2 separate regions of the Homo sapiens genome follow, and region 2 is linked to region 1. Evidence: fine-mapped expression QTL. Tissue or cell type: testis. Region 1 holds a variant in brackets; the other region holds the start of a gene. All regions are shown on one strand. Distances are between the middles of the regions.

Region 1 (8,109 bases):
CTCACATTTCCATTCTAATTTGACTTTTGCTATTTTGTTACAACCACCTGTCGAGGATACAGCATCTGATCTTACCTATTAATAACATCATAGAAAAATATTGAAGGTGTGTAAATTGCTTTGGAAAATGTTTGGATTTCTAATACATATCCATTTACTCCTATTAATATATTATTTAGAAATATAATATTAAAATTTTTATTCTGGATGCACCAAGAGCATCTATACAGTGTAGGAATAAAACATGCAGTTATCTGGTCCTCAAAAGAGCATCTACTGTCTATGTGCTAGTTGAGGCAACATAGAACATGATTTTATCATTATTGCATGTATTAAAGCAAATATTCTCCCTTCATTCAAATCTGAGTAAATTCAACTGCTAAGATTTGTGGAATCTGGGAACCTAAAAGACTACTCTATATACAATGTTTGCTGAAAACATGCATTCCTGCTGAAAACAGCAGGGTGCATTCAGCACCTCTTCATATCATGCACACAGAGAACAGAGATGGCTGAAAAGACACTATGATAACTGCACCATAATTAAACAATTGATACTTTCCCTCCTTCCTAACAATCTGGAGTAATTCAAAACCATTATGTTTCTCACATATATGAACAATAACATTGTAGGTCGATTAGGTGAAACTCTACGTCAATGTCAGAACACAGTAAATATTTGCACCACTAATATGCAAAGCCATGAATTAGAACTTCAAATCATCATGTTGTTCACAGTCATTCTTTTATAGCTTTACACCAATAGTTAGTTTTGAAGCACTGGCTAAAGTTAAACTAACAACTTCTATAATCAGATTCTTATTTTAACCACACATTCACCTTTAAAAGCTTAAGCCAAACTTGACTTAAACAAATAGAAAAATACCCTGAAATTCAATAAATGTCAGAGGTCACGAAAAAGATATCATCCTCACCATGAAAGCAACAAAATTCCAATTTCAAGGCTGATTCTTTACTCCATAATTATTTCATTTTCTTGTGTTTGTGGTAGGTAGATATTGTAGCATTACATGGAGACGTGTTCCCCTGAAAACTTCCATTATGGTTAATGGAAGTTATACGCATAAAGAAAGGAAAATGGAGCCCATGGCTCATATGTTTTGAGACTCCTAGATTAAAGAGGCACATCTTGTGGGCATGTGAAGTTCAATAGAAATTCTAAAATAGCAACTGTTTTTATAAATCACTGTTTTGCACTTCTCAAGTCTGAATGTGATAACATGTCTTTCAGTTCTAGTGGCTTTGGTTGGGAATACTGGGAGATAGAAAAGCTCATACAAATGGGTATAATAGATCAAGATATCTCCTTCGATTTTGCCATCATCTTTTGCATATTGTTAACATATATGTACAGATGGTCCCGTAATATATAAATTACTCACACATTTTTTTCAACTTCATGCAAACACTAACTCCCCTGCTCCCCATATTAAATGCTGTGCATGCACTGACTGAAAAGTATGCTTCCCTGAACGACTTCCTAAAATACAGTTTAGTCAAAAGAAATAAGTTCTCCTGGGTTCTTACAAGTGAATGTGTATTTTATTCTCAATCCTTATCATTTAAGGGACTAGCTATATACAGGACAACTCTTTGTGACTTTTTTTAAAAACTTGATAATAGGCACTTTCTACAAAGAGGATTTGAATTCAAAAGACTAAAATTCAGTCTTTAGTATCCCCCTTTCACAAATGGACCTGCCTGAGCCACAATAGCTTATTGAATCAACTCAGCAGAAGTCCAGCAGTAGAACTGTGTGCAAAAAGCTTTAAAAAACTATAACCACAATAAAATGATAGAAAAGCAGTTATCTGAGTCGAGCAACTTAATGTCTACTTCTTGGTTGGTTGGTTTGTTTGTTTTACCACATTTCATGTGTTATCACTACAAACACTAGGATTCATGTGTCAACAATCCGTACCAGTGTTTCATTCTTTCTAAGTTATATACATGCCACAAAAATTTATCTATCTGTTTACATTCTTTTTTATTTTATACCATAATAGTTAGCATTTTGATATGATTACTTAAATGCTTTATTTTTTGTATGTTTCTTTGCTAACAAGCCTTTCAATGTCACTCTTGAACATGTTTTGGAAATACAAATTTAGAGCATTTATCAGCTTTGGAAATTCAGCATCTCTTACATGAATTGTCAAAAGGCCCTTATACCCTGTGGTGCAGTGTTTCTATAATAACATACTCTATATTAATAGTTTAGTATTTATGATGTTGATAATGTCAGCTTACAAGATGGCAGCTGTTCTCCAAGAAGGAGGGAGTAGGGATTTCCTTACATAAGAGCTAATGATTACTATCTAAGTATAATGTTAAAAAACGAGAGGTATAGTTGATCAAAAATGTAATTCATGCACAAAACCCATAGCAATAAGTTTTCAATATCCCACACTCTTATCTGACTTAGGCAACTAAACAGTCATTTAAATGGAGCAAACACTGCCTGTAGGGGAAAAGAACCTAACACTAAGTTACAGAAAAATATCCTATGGAAAGAGATCATAACATGGTACTAATAGTTTAAAAGACTGAACTCTTCCTTGGCATTAATCTATACTTTTAACTTAACAGAACAGTGAGAAAATGATAGCTCGATATACATACTCAGCCTGAGATCAAATTTGTCATGGCAACATTGGCAGGTTGGACCCTGATTCTTCAAATATTACATTGCCTTGGGTAACAAAAATCATACTCTTTTATTATAGAATAGAGATTATAAATAAATGTAAAGTGTGCATGCAGTCAACTGCATAATATACAAGCAATATCTATGTTTTTAATCATCATCTTCTTTGGCAGGCCAGAATCCAGCTGGACATGCAATATTTACATATCAAAATCCATGTGTGGTCATCATCTTGAAAGCAAGTGAAAATATATATATGTATATACTGTATATACACACATATGTATATACTGTTTTAATATATTAACAAATATATATGTATATATATTAAAAGTGGATTTCATCTTTGTCAGATTCAGGTGATTCAGGCCTTGAGACACTAAAAATATCCTGACATGGTATCTGGGGGGGTACTTGGAGTGGCATTTGGGATTTGGGAGATGAGGCCTGGGGTACGCTTTTTTCCGACAGTATTTTTAAAATTTCTGCCACCTGCTTTTCTAGGGCAGTCATTCTGCAGCTGAGCAGCTGGATGTCCTCTTTGAGTTCGTGTTTGACTTCCTGCAGTGTGGTCTGTAAGGCCTGCTCGGGGATGGGATAAAAGGGGTGCTTGGCATCAGCCTGGATGGGACTGTGCTCTAGCGGACTTCGGGCCTCCCCAGCCTTATCCAAACGAAGGTCACTTTTTGTAATTCCACTGTCACAAGAATCTGTTTTTCTTAGTGGGTTTTTGGTCACACTGTTCTCTGAATCACTGCTCTTGGGGTCCTCAGACAATAGCCCCATTGACTCAGCTTTAGTGACATTATTCCAGTCTTCCTTTTTCTCCTCATGGGCTCCCATATTATTCTTGAGTCGCAGCCACCCTTTTCCATTTCCATTCTTCATTCTTATTGGGCTGTTGACTTTGAGACATTTTTGGTCAGCACCGCCGTTGGGCTTGAGTTCCATGGCATCACGGTTGTTCTGCTTAAGGGATTCACTGGTTTTCACATAGGCCAGAGACGTCTGAATGGGAGTAATCTGTGACACAGTCACCACGCTGGTTCCGGTGATGGAGG[C/T]TCCATTCTGTAAGGAGCGGCTCTCTACCTGGAGTTGGTTCCTCTCAGGGTCACCCTGTGTTGAGCCCTGATTCCGCAGCTCCTTCTGCTGCTTGAACTTCTGGAAGAGCTTTCTGACTGGGTGGTCCACGGGAATGCTGAGGGTCACCTCATTCTTCTGCCGGAGGCGCTCCTCCTCCTCTTTCTTCACATCACTGATCTTACGAAAGATGATCTGTGGAACGGGAGAGATAGTCACAGCCTGATTATAAAAGCAGATGGATTAACAGTTGTATAATACTATGCTGTATGTGCTTTGTGTTACAAAGAAAACCCTTGAATATTTGATAAGATTATTTCTCAAGAAAAAAAAATTTAAATACCATTTATGGAATTGCATTTATGAAATTTATGGATGCAATATGGCTTAAACCCAACATAGAAATGTTGGCTACTTACTTACTTAGTTCTAGTCCCCTACATATCAGAGGGAGAATTACTCAAGAGACAACTGAATAGAGAGGTACTTTGCTTCTAGTTTATGTTCCCCTTATATTGCCGTTAGTAGGAAATACACACATACATACACACATACATATTTGTATATGTATATATGTGTATACATATATAAGGAAATACATATTTATCCCTTAAATTTCTCTGTAATGAATTGCCACTTTTGTATGATTTTCCTTATTGTGTAGAAATAAGTTTCAAAACCATTTTTAATATTATCCTCTGTTGGCCGGGCGCGGCGGCTCACGCCTGTAATCCCAGCACTTTGGGAGGCCGAGGCGGGCGGACCACGAGGTCAGGAGATCGAGACCACGGTGAAACCCCGTCTCTACTAAAAATACAAAAAATTAGCCGGGCGCAGTGGCGGGCGCCTGTAGTCCCAGCTACTCGGGAGGCTGAGGCAGGAGAATGGCGTGAACCCGGAAGGCGGAGCTTGCAGTGAGCGGAGATCGCGCCACAGCACTCCCGCCTGGGCGACAGAACGAGACTCCTTCTCAAAAAAAAAAAAAAAAAAAAAAAAAAATTATCCTCTGTTTGGGTATCAGATAGTAAGAATTCCAGGCTATAAGTGTACTGAAAACTTACACAGTTTAGCAAATGGCATCTGGGTTGGGTGAGGGGAGAATTTAAATTGATTTATGCGACCCTAGAAGGCAGAACTAGAATTTGTGAGGAAAAGTTTCCGGGAGGTAACACCAGCTTAGTACACAGACTTCATTGCAAACTGCTCTCTATTGAATAAACTGCCTCGAAAACTCATGATCGTTCTACCACTAAAAGGTTAAGATAGAAGTATGTTTTCCATATGACATGTTCACTGGGTTGGAGGTTGAACTCTTCAATTTCCCAGATTCTTTACATTTTAAACATAAAATTAAATACATAGTACAGGTGAGGGGTTAGATATCCACAAATAAATGAGCATCATTTTATTTAAAATGTATTTTGAAGATAATAATGGGAAGAACTTATGATAACCCCATCAGAAGAAATAAAAAATGTTGGCTATATAAGAAATTGCCACATATATTATCAGAGTTGGAAGTAAAGTTAATAAGTGTGAGATTTTTGCTCAGAGTCCTGAAAAGCAAAGTAACTGCAGGTGAAGGCTGTAAGGAAAATCAAAAAAGAGTTATATTAGATAAGGCACTTTCAGAATCAGACAATTTTATCACTCAAGGAAAATAACTTACCTTGATCACCCTCTGTAGGTTGTTGGTTAGAGTAGAAACACATGTGAAGCACGTGTTCTCTAACCCATAACAGACACTCAGCATACGTTGGTTCTCTCTCCTTGAACTCTCATAAAATACTCCTATCTGAAACCATTTACTATCTTTTGAATATTCAGCAGCTGCCTGGAGTAACATATAATCATTGATTTTACACCAAAAACCAATACTACTGATGGTCACCGTTAACAGAAAAGCCAGAAAGATAGGAATTCCCCTTCCAGGTAAGAGTACATTTTCTAAAATGAGATTGATGCACTAAATTCAGTTTATCGAGTGGTACTAATTTGTATTTTGAAATAAATTCAGTAACTGTCTGTAAAGGCCAACATATTTTTTCTTGTTAGTGGCACATGAAATTGGGTCTTTTTAAAATATGTAATAATAATCTCAAATTCTGACATCAAAGCTCCAGCAGTTTAATTAGAAGTCTTTCAAAGGGTTGACACAATTCTTATGCTTCCCAAGTAAACATAGGTTGTACTAAGTCTTCAAGATATGAACATTCTTTAGAACCAGACAGACCCAGACACAGGAACGCAGATACTATTTTCCTATTTCAGCCCCTTTTTGAAAAAGTACTCACTTTGATTCTATGGGTGGACATGAGAGGCCTAATATGAATGATTTTCCACATCCCCCTTCCCACTCACCACTTACCCTTTTTATTTTTTTAAGGTGGTTGTTTAGCCTAGGATAGACATAGTGTTGGCTCGATGTGGTAACTGAGAGCAGCCTTCACATTTGGGAAAATGGAACCGTTTCAAAGTCAGTGGAGTGTGACAAGTGGTAGGCACACAGGAAGGTCAGGTAAAATGCAGGTCCCCTGTGCAATATTTGGGACATACTAAAAACATCAGACATTATAAATCTGAATTGGACATATGTATCCTTTAACAAATATTCTTTGTTTATTCAAATTTTAATTTTACCTGGGAGTCCTGTATTTTTGTTTGCTAAATTTGGCAACCCTATTGGTATATAATAGACAAGGACATTCCTATTTTGTAATGTCTACATGTCCTGCCATGCAGAGACTATAATGAAAGATTTGGTATTACTGACATCTGAGAATTTGTGGGCACCTTAGGCAAGAGCCTTATTTGTTTAGATCTTTGAATATAATGGCTAATAATTGCTTGCAATTATTGTGTGCTTACCAAGTTCAGGGTGTTTTGTGTTGTAAGACTGTAACATGTCCATGTAAAATATCAATAAAATAAATCTTTCCCAGCTTCCTTGACCACCAGCTGCCCCCCACCCACCCCCAACCAAGAACAAACAAAAGTGTTTGAATTGCTACTATTTAGCTAGAAACAAAGACTCCAAATACCAAAATACATAGAGCAAAGGGGGTCTTGGCACAGGGCTTGATTTCTCACCTATACTAGGGGACAAATGAGACAGAGCTGGATCTGTATTTTGCTGTCGAGAAATGTAAAAGTAACTGGGAAAGAGAAAGAATCGAGCTCTGGTACATTAGATGACAGAATTCTGAGTATTGCACATTGTTCCTTTCCCCCTTTTTACGCCCGGGAGATAGGAAGTTAAGTAATTTTAAACATAGCTCCCTTGAGGTTTGAGGGTACTTATGACCAACAAGACTGGTCCTGAATTGTCATCAAGTTTGCAGAACAGCAGGACCTACACATCCAATCTCAGGAGCCAGCAATGCACAGCGGAAAAACATGCTCTTTAGAGAGCCAAAGTTCCCCTCTTTGCTCCTTGCCCTTCACTTCCTTTATAGCTCAGAGGGGTACTGGCTAGGATCCCCTAGAGCTCAGGAAGCCACTGAACGTACTCATTTGTGAATTCAGTCTGCTAGAAGCCAGGCAAGGCAAAAGCACTGTGTGAGGTGGGAAAGGTTATTGCACCCTGTAGGTGATCTGCCACCAGGGACTTTCAGGCCATCAATTATGCCACACATAAAGAGAGCCAGCAGTTGGACGTGACTAGCTCAAAAGCCAACACTCTGAGGAGTGGCTACAGGCCCTCCAGATCTCAGACACAAGCCCTAGGTCCTGAAGTAGATCCCCCTTTCTCCTTAGCAGCAGGGCCTGCTGACAATCTGCAGCCCAGTGAGAGGAGAAGCAGGTGCAGGAGGAAGGTTAGAAAGAGGGGGTCATGAGGCGATTTATCACCCAATCTATACAATTGGAACTGACACCTAACCGCAAACAGTAACACTTGGATTTGGTCAACTACTTATTATATCCAGGTTTTTAAGAGGTAGTTTTTTTTAAAAAAAATACTAGTTTGAATTGACTTTATAGGATTAGAATAAGACAAATTGACATTTGTTTTATTTTACTTTTGACTATGGAACAAAATAATGGCATTGTAAAATGATAATAAAATATCTGTATATAGCAAAGTGGTCACTTCCACACACGTATTTTCTCATTTAAGTGTCATGGAATGAGAACATTTTACGAGCTAGGACCTATTATTCTCTACTGTAGGACACAGGTCATATTATTCTTTTATCACAGAGAAGCAAATTGAGGCATAAAGAGTTTAAGTGGTTTCCCTTAGGTCACACAACTGTGTGTCCAGGATGCAAATCCAAGGGGTCAGATTCCAAACAGTCTTAACCATTCCACTCTCCTGCTCCTCAAGGTAACTTTTATACTTTCTCCTGGACTCCGTGAAA
Region 2 (8,109 bases), 340 kb after region 1:
ATGAAAATAATTTTGGACTTTTCTACAAGTAAGAGATAGCTGAGTAAAAAAAGTGCTTGTGCAACCAGCTATCTCAAGCAGAATGAAAAATTGAGGATACTGAGTTTCTTCTCTTGAAAGGTAAGTGGTTCATAAAATACTACCTTCTCTGTTTTCTTCTTTCCTGAACCCCTTTTTTCCCCAAAAAGAAAAACACTTCTAGTTTTCCACAAAACTAAAATAAACTTCCAATTTGTCATAAAGCTTAAAATATTAAATAATAATAATTTCTAGTTAAAAGGTATTAATTTGTAGTTAAAATTTTCAAAATAGCAACCTAGCTTACTGTCACTCAAACTAATCATGTCTGCCTATTTGCTAAGGAATTGAAGACAACATATGAGTAAAATGTGCTGCCCAAAGACAAAATCAGGTTGAAGGTCTTTGAAATATTTTTTGTCTTTTGAATCTAAATTTTAACCTAAAAGTCCTAAAAACAGTTACTTTCTTCCAGATACTTAACCTCTACCCACAAGTTTATTGCTCCCTAGAGCCCAATTTAGATTAATAGTTTGCATAAATAATTGAAATTTAAATAAAGGAAGGTATCCTAATAATGTTCTAGACACAAATCTAGTCTGTAAGCCCTTGAGGCAGGGGCCTTCTGGGAGACATTGCTCAGCTGTAATGAACTCACCACATAGTCCTCTAAACCTTCCCTTACTAATGGCTTATTTTGATCGTACTAGCCAAAAGTTTGTCTAAGCCGTCCTATAGCATTTATACTTTAAACTTTACAACTTCTTAGAGTAATAATGTTCTCTATATTTACTAGAATCACATGCTAAGAATTATTATAATTCCTTTTGTCTAGAAATGATCTTATCTTTTATCTTTAAACTAAAAAGAATTCCTTGCTTCTTTTGAGATTTGGCTATAAAGGGTGTGTGTATCCATCCTACTCAATGGCCCTCATTATTTTATTTTATAGACTTTGAATCACCAGTAACAACTTGCAATGCTCGCTTATAACAGACTGAGTCAACTAAATAAGGAAAATAAAAATCCAGTCTCAAGAGGTGTGAAATAATAGCATAGGTTATAGTTGCCACTCTGGAGTACAGAATACAGTGCTGGTATTCTGGGAAACTGCATCTGAGGAGTTTGGAACTTTATTAAGAAATCCTCAGGTATAAAATTGATATTCAAATATGCCACACTTCTTGCTTTTTTGTTTCACATCATCAAAAAAATGTTCTGGTAAATTTGTAACTGGCTGAGATTTCAGTTCATTGGTGATACCCATGGACAAATAAATGTCTGACATTTTCTCTTTGTGTCCATTTCCCTTGCATGTCCCATAATCTCTCTCTCTCTCTCTCCCACCCCACCCCTTTCTCTCTGCTCTGTGTGTTTTGTTTTGTTTTGTTTCCTACATCTCTGTTTTGCTCCTTGTGTGCAAGACAGAGAAAAAGAGTTAGATTGCTTCCTCTCTGTCTGTAGGGTGGTGGACACACTTTACAGACAAATCCTAAAAAAGAAGAAGTAGGATATTCCTCTTTTCAGTTTTCTGGGTGGATGCCTGACCAGCTGAGTGTTTACCTATGTGACTGTGTATTATCTGGGTATCTCTCTATATCTATGTCTATGTTTGGCTGACTCTCACTGTAAGATCTGACCTTTTCATAAGAAGAAAATGGTATTGTATCAGAAAGAGCTTTTCTTGGGGTTCAGGTAAAAAGACAAGGCCAGCCTCTGTTTCTTCAATTGTTAAATAGATTGGGAGTGCTGGGTGCTATTCTTTCTCTTCCTGCTAAACCTCTGCCAACACTTCACTTTCAATGTTGTTAAGTTAGTGAATAATGAAACCTTCAAAGTGACAAACCTGATCCATCTGTGAGAATCCTGAAGGGAATTTTCTATTAGTCTCAATTAAACAATTTCTCAGGATAAATTTTTCTATTTCTCTGCCAAATCATATAGAAATGACAACTGCGGGATATTCCCCCGTGAATGTGTAGACCAATTTAATACCATAATTCTCAATTTCTGAGGTTCTGCCTATAAAAGAGGTACTGAGACTTTTCAGTATTTATCACACACACCTGCATATATACTCACTACAACTATCTAACACACTTCAAACAGTTCAGGGTCTTTGAGTAGTGGTATTCAAAGTTAGCCATAGGCGATTAGAGGTGGCATTTAAGTGCCAAAACAGATAAATTTTCATTTTCACTTGGTATTGTCCAGGAAAGAAACATTTAACCAATGAAACGATTATGAACATGAAGTGTAAAAAAGATAAAATACTCATTAATTTGAGTGGTAGATACAAAATGGAGGCAACAGAAACAGACATTTCTAAGCCACCTAAGGTAAATCTTTATTTCATAGTATATCTACAATTTTTAAAAATTCAAAAAACTATCTCATAGTTTCATAGTCTGCATAAGAAGCTTCAACCACAGTTGCTATATTAATAAAGTTTAGTCAAGGGATTCTCATGTTCTTTCTCTTTATAAAGCAGAGCAATCGTAACCCTGCAGATTTTATGTTTTAAGGCCTTCTCTGAAAAGTTCTCTCATAGACCAAATTGCGTGAAGTTGAAATAACCCAAGAGGATGAGAAAGCTGAAAGAAGACTTGTATACTTAACTAATTCCAATAATCCACACATTTTCCCCAAACTGTTTTAAGAGTAATATCCCCTTGTATTATAGGTTTAGTATAATCTTAATACAAGAAGGTAATCTATAAGAATAAAAATTGCCTACCATTATGAATTTATATAACTAAAAAATATACAGGTATTTAAAAGAATATTAGGCCAGACCCTATTCGCTATTTTTTCCGACCCAAATACAACACTACTGCTTTAGACTTTTATTGTTTCAGGCATTGGCCAAAACGAAGAAATAAAGTTTAAAACCTCAAATTAAAAACAAATAACAAGTCAGATATTTGGGGAAAATACTTTGAAACACTTAAATACAGTTAGTCTCAAAATCAGAGGAAATATTTACAAGCCTAGTCTTAAAAGAGATTCTAATCTAAGAATTAGTATAATCTAATCTACCATTTAGGGAAAGCATTATTTATTTAATTATTTGATATTTCAGTGTACCTCTGTCTTTCCCTGTGCCTCCAACTAGGCAAGGAGCCTCTTAAGAAGAGGGGATGTGTATTAATTACTTTTTTTTAATCCCAAGAAACCACAGAGTATCTGTGGTATAAGGCACCCAAATAAATATTGTTTCAATGAATGAATAAACAAGGCACTATGGAACTGCATAGAGTATTTCCATTGCTTTGTTCCAAGCTCTACTGTACTCCATATACAGAAATGTCTTTCTCATTATTCTCCAAGCAAGAGATGTCAAAATAACAGCCTCTGAAGGAAAAACTTAAAAAGATATTCAACATATCTTACTTATGAAGTTTAAAATTATACAAAAGAATTAAAAACAAGTAGAAAACGCAGATTTCAGTAAGATGCAAAGTTTATAAGGTCTTAAAATGTGGAAATATATAACCATTCCCATCCAAAATATCTTGTAGGAAATGAATGTATAAATGGATGGTATTTTAAAGACACACTAAGGCAAGAAAACTTTAACGCCAGTAGCAAGGTAGGATGGCATCTTTTTGATTTTTTTCTAGTTGCATTAAAAGCACAATAGTTACTGCTTCACTTCTACGTTTCTCATGTTTAAGTCAAACGAAATATATAGATGAATGTACAGTGAAAAACATAGCAAGAAGAAACTTGAAGCACCAATTTGTCCACAGTAATTGGCTTCCCATTTTGCAAGCACTGAACTCTTTCTTAGGTTCAACCTCAACTACTCTCCCCGGCACAAAGCACCTTTCCCCGTGACCACGAGGGCCAAAAGCCTTTCCAGAGATTTAAATCTTGTTAAGTAGCCACTTTCGCAGCCATTCCCAACTTGAGGGAAACCTTTCCACTGAGATTAACTCAGAATTTGGTCAGTCCCTGCTGCTCACTTTGGGGAAAAATGTGGGAGAAGGAAGAACAAGAAAGATAAAAGCAAAACTCAACTCTATGTTCCAGATGTACCTACACCCTATCCAACCCCTTTCTTTCCTCCAGTTCTGGGCTCTGGACAGGTGGGAGGGGGTGAGTCTGTCTGGTAGGAAGGGGATGCAACTAACTTTCCCCCACCATCTCATTGCCACCCCACCCCACCCCAAATCCAGCCCAACTGGTAAATGAAACCACCAGGTAAGGCTGCCTGCATCCTCCTCCCCCCTTGGGAGAGGGATGGGATGGGGAGGATGGGGGGCGCGTGTGGGCGGGATGGAGGTGGGGGTGTTCTGAACTACAACTCTCCTTACCACTGGAGCGCCTGACGATGTTCTCCAAAAATGTGTTCTGCGGTGCCACCAGCCCTCTCTTGCCCCCCGGCATCCTGGGTCTGGAGAGCAGCGGCCAGGATCCGCGGCGGGGGAGGGGGGGATGCAGGCAAAGAAGGTGGAGGAAGAGGAGGAAAAGGTGGAAGAGAAGATTGAGCCGAAAGAAGAGGGGGCGCGGCGGCGGCGACGGGGTCCCCTGACTGTGTCTCCAGCCCGACCCGGATGAGCAGCTCTGGGGAGGAGGACCAGGCAGTTCATGGTAGTAGCGCTCCCCCGGCCGCCGCTGCCCAGACTGTGGCGGTGCCGCACACGGGGCTCGGGAACTGCAGGCTCCGCGGGGCACAGTGCGCCTGCGCCGCCCCCGCTGTCGCTGTCCCGCCGGTGCTGATGCTGAGGCTGCTGCTGAGGCTGCTACCGCGGCGGCCGGCGCCTGGGCGCGGGCTCTGCATCTCTCCCCCTGCTGGGGAGCGCAAGCGGGAACTCAAGCCCCCACCCTCCCAATCCCCCTCAGCTCAGACCGAGACCCCTTCCCCGCGCCTTCGTCTCCCGGTCTCCTCGTCCACCCCCTCGCGCAGCGAGCTCCGGGCTGAACAGCGTAGCCCAACTTCTGGGCTGTGCGCCTGGTGGTTGCTCCTCTCCCCGGAGATCGAGGCAAGCGATCGCTGTCCAATCGGGCCGGTGGAATGGGAGAAGAGGGTGCCAGAGAGAGCAGTGGCCAGTCGGAGGCTCACATCTCGGCGTCTCCCGCTCGGGTCCCGAATCCGGGCTGCTGGCGCGGACGCGGCTCCCGGGGCGGAGGTGCGGGCAGGCTCCAGCTCCAGCCCCAGCCGAGGCTGAGAGCAGGGCAGGGACTGGCTGGGCGGCGCGCGGGGACGCAGAGCAGCCACCTGACGCTGCTACCGCCCCCCTCCGGGCTCCGGCGCCTGAAACCTTCCTGAACACTGGCGCTTTCCGCACCGCCCTTACCCCACCCCGGAGCGGGAGCGCGAGCCCTGAAGTCCGAGCGCACAGCCGGCGCCCGGAATGGCCCCTGCGACCCGGGCCGGGCTTGGCGTCTGGGGGAGCGTGCGGCCGCCCAGGGGAGTTTCCCCCAGGACCGCTGAGCGCAGGAGGCGATCCGCGAGCCCGCCACCGCTGCAAAGTTGCGGGAAAGGTTGCACTTGATGTGAAGAGTAGGGGAAGAGGGTGAATAATTCACACCCGAGAGAGGGGGAGTGAGGAGGGCAGTGTTAGCGATGGAAAAACGGTAAAGGCTGTGGGGGCGAAGATGCGCCAGGGTGGAGCAGGGCACGAATCACCTCTAACAAACCCCCCAATTTCCAGGCGTTGAGAACGGACAGCAGCGGCACCGTTACAAACAGTCCAAAAGCCTGAATGTGTCACAGAGAAAGGAAAATGGCATAAATGCGAAAGGGGTGGAGAGAGATGGAAAGGAAAGAGGAGCCCGCACTGAGGCACCTTCCTTGATCTAAGGCAGTGGTTCTCAAAGTGGCCTGGACGGGCAGCATCCGCATCTGCACCACCTAAGAACTTGTTTATAATGCAAATTAGTGGATTCTACCCCAGAGTTAGGGAACCAGGAACTCTGAGGATTGGGTTGACTCATCTGTTTAAACAAGCCCTCCAGGTAAATATGATACATGTAAGGCTTCCTCTTTTCTCTGGGGGCTGCACCTGGGCCTGTCGAGAAAGGACGATTGTGCAAACAGGGTCAAAGAGTGGGGGACCAAAAGTGCACTGCCGCGGCGTCAGCGGTTGGTGGTAGAGCGAAGTCTTCAGTGTTGAAGGCGAAAAGATAGTTGGATGGGTGCGTCCCCTTTTGCTGGGGTCAGAATGTGCTAGAGGAGAGGTAATTGCGTTAGAAATTATCAAGGTCAGATTACCAGAAGCAGGGAGAATCCCCAGGCAGGGGTGGAAGTACACATCTCAGCACCTGTCCCCTTTTGGAACCCCCTAGATTACTAATCACTGACCTCAAGACAGGATCTCTCTCTCTCTGTCTGTCTCTGTCTCTCTCTCTCTCCCTCCTTGCCTCCCCTCCCCTCCCCTCCCCTCCCCTCCCCTCCCTCTCTCTCTCCCCTTCTCTCTCCCCTTTCTCTCTCTTCCCACCTCTCTCTCTCCCCCCACCTCTCTCTCCCTTTCTCTCCTCTCCCCAACTGGGTAAGCCTACTGCTTGAAGCAGCTAAATGCAAAACCAGGATCCAGCCTTTACCTTGGGGTCATTTTTTCCCTCTCTGAAATTTTCAGAGACCAGGCAGCTGAGCAAACCCAGAAGGTTGACACGAGGCAATTTTATTCCGCTAAAAATCTTTATGCAAAAAAAAAAAAAAAAAAATCAAGAGACTCGGTGGAATAACACTAGGCTATTCTAGCTTTCCACAGGAAGTGCTGCTGGCCATGGAGCTTATCCCCTTACAGTTAAAATGTCTTTTAAATACATCAGGTGTGTTTAGTTAAATAACAAGAGACTCAGGTGCAGATTGGATCCGTAGTGAGCTTGCCACAGCAGCACTCAAGAGATACGGCCAGGTTACAACTCCCTCCCTGCAGTTGGTGGGAAGAACTGAAACCACCATCACCACAGCAGCCTTAAACACATAATTGAATTTCCCACTCTAGCGATTCTTTTGTGACCTGTGTTCAAATGATCCTAAACTAATCAGTCATTCATTGGCTGGGTTGGTGAATAGACAGACTTATTTTTTAAACATGTATAATTCATTGATTGCTATTCTAGACTTCTAGCATGCTATAATAATTCCATCATCATTAACAGAGAATATTTCAAATCTATATGTTCTTTTGCACATCGTCAGCTGCCCACATCTCGCCTATGGGTATTGATTTAAAATCTCAGGTTCTCAGCATTTCCCATCTAGTATATATATTCTTGTTCCTAATCATTCCTCTGTGGGTGTATTAACTCACATTTCCCAAAGAGGAAATTCTTTTGGACTCCATTAAGACACAATCACAAAATTACTGGTAGAACTTTCTTATTCCCATCTGCAGATTCAATTAAATGACATTTATCCTTTCTTCTTTGTTTCTAATAACTCCATAGCATTATAACGTTTGGATTATTTTAATGATCATAAAAAATGTAGCTGTGTAGTGTCAAAAGGTTACACACTTTTCTTAATCTTCTAGTTTAAATTTTCATTTTATAAAGGAAGAAACCAAGACCCAGAGAGATGAAATATCCTGTCCCAGATGACACAGTGCTTTAGAACAGTCTGCACTGAGACTAAAATCAGGTCTCCTGACCCTGTAGCCAGAGCTCCTTGTAAATAATAGAAAATAACCTAATCTTAGGCTAGTGTGGTAACAACCAGCAACATCAAGGATCTCTATTGCCATCGATGATTTTGCAGCCCATGAAAGAAGAGAAACCCTTGGCAACAACTTGCAACTGTTCCCAATCAAAATAGAGTCAAGGAAAATAGAGTAGCAGCATCATATAGATTGACTGGCCCTAAGGAATATGCTGGCCAGTTGCAACAAGGTGCTAATACAGCATTTTAAAAGTGTGTTACAGACTCCGTATGTGGGGAACAAACCTCAAGATTTAACAGATGAGAGAGATAGGAATTAGAAAGCTTCAATGTCACACAAAGACAAAGCTTCGTTTTGTTATATTGTCAAAAGTCCATTTTAAAACAGAATCATTTGTTCTTTTCTTCTGTCCCTCCAGGTATGGTAATTAGACCTTGTCTGTGATAACCAAGAATTCCAATCCCCAGAAGTGTTCACT

What was found. PIP is the estimated chance that this variant, and not a neighbour inherited with it, causes the effect.
Region 2: KCNH5 starts here. The variant in region 1 is fine-mapped to the expression of KCNH5 in testis (GTEx, PIP above 0.99).

The regions. Positions count from the first base shown.
Region 1 is chr14:62,704,513-62,712,621 of GRCh38, forward strand. It overlaps KCNH5 (potassium voltage-gated channel subfamily H member 5), which reads right to left. Exons shown (of 11, transcript NM_139318.5): 11 at 1-3,943. The coding sequence ends at 2,996. Among named protein-coding and RNA genes, the nearest start is that of KCNH5, 340 kb to the right of the region's middle. RefSeq lists an enhancer at 6,784-6,953. The variant C/T (reference allele first, on the strand shown) is at 3,730.
Region 2 is chr14:63,040,777-63,048,885 of GRCh38, forward strand. It overlaps KCNH5 (potassium voltage-gated channel subfamily H member 5), which reads right to left and starts at 4,682. Exons shown (of 11, transcript NM_139318.5): 1 at 4,338-4,682. The coding sequence starts at 4,410. RefSeq lists enhancers at 3,943-4,446, 4,447-4,950.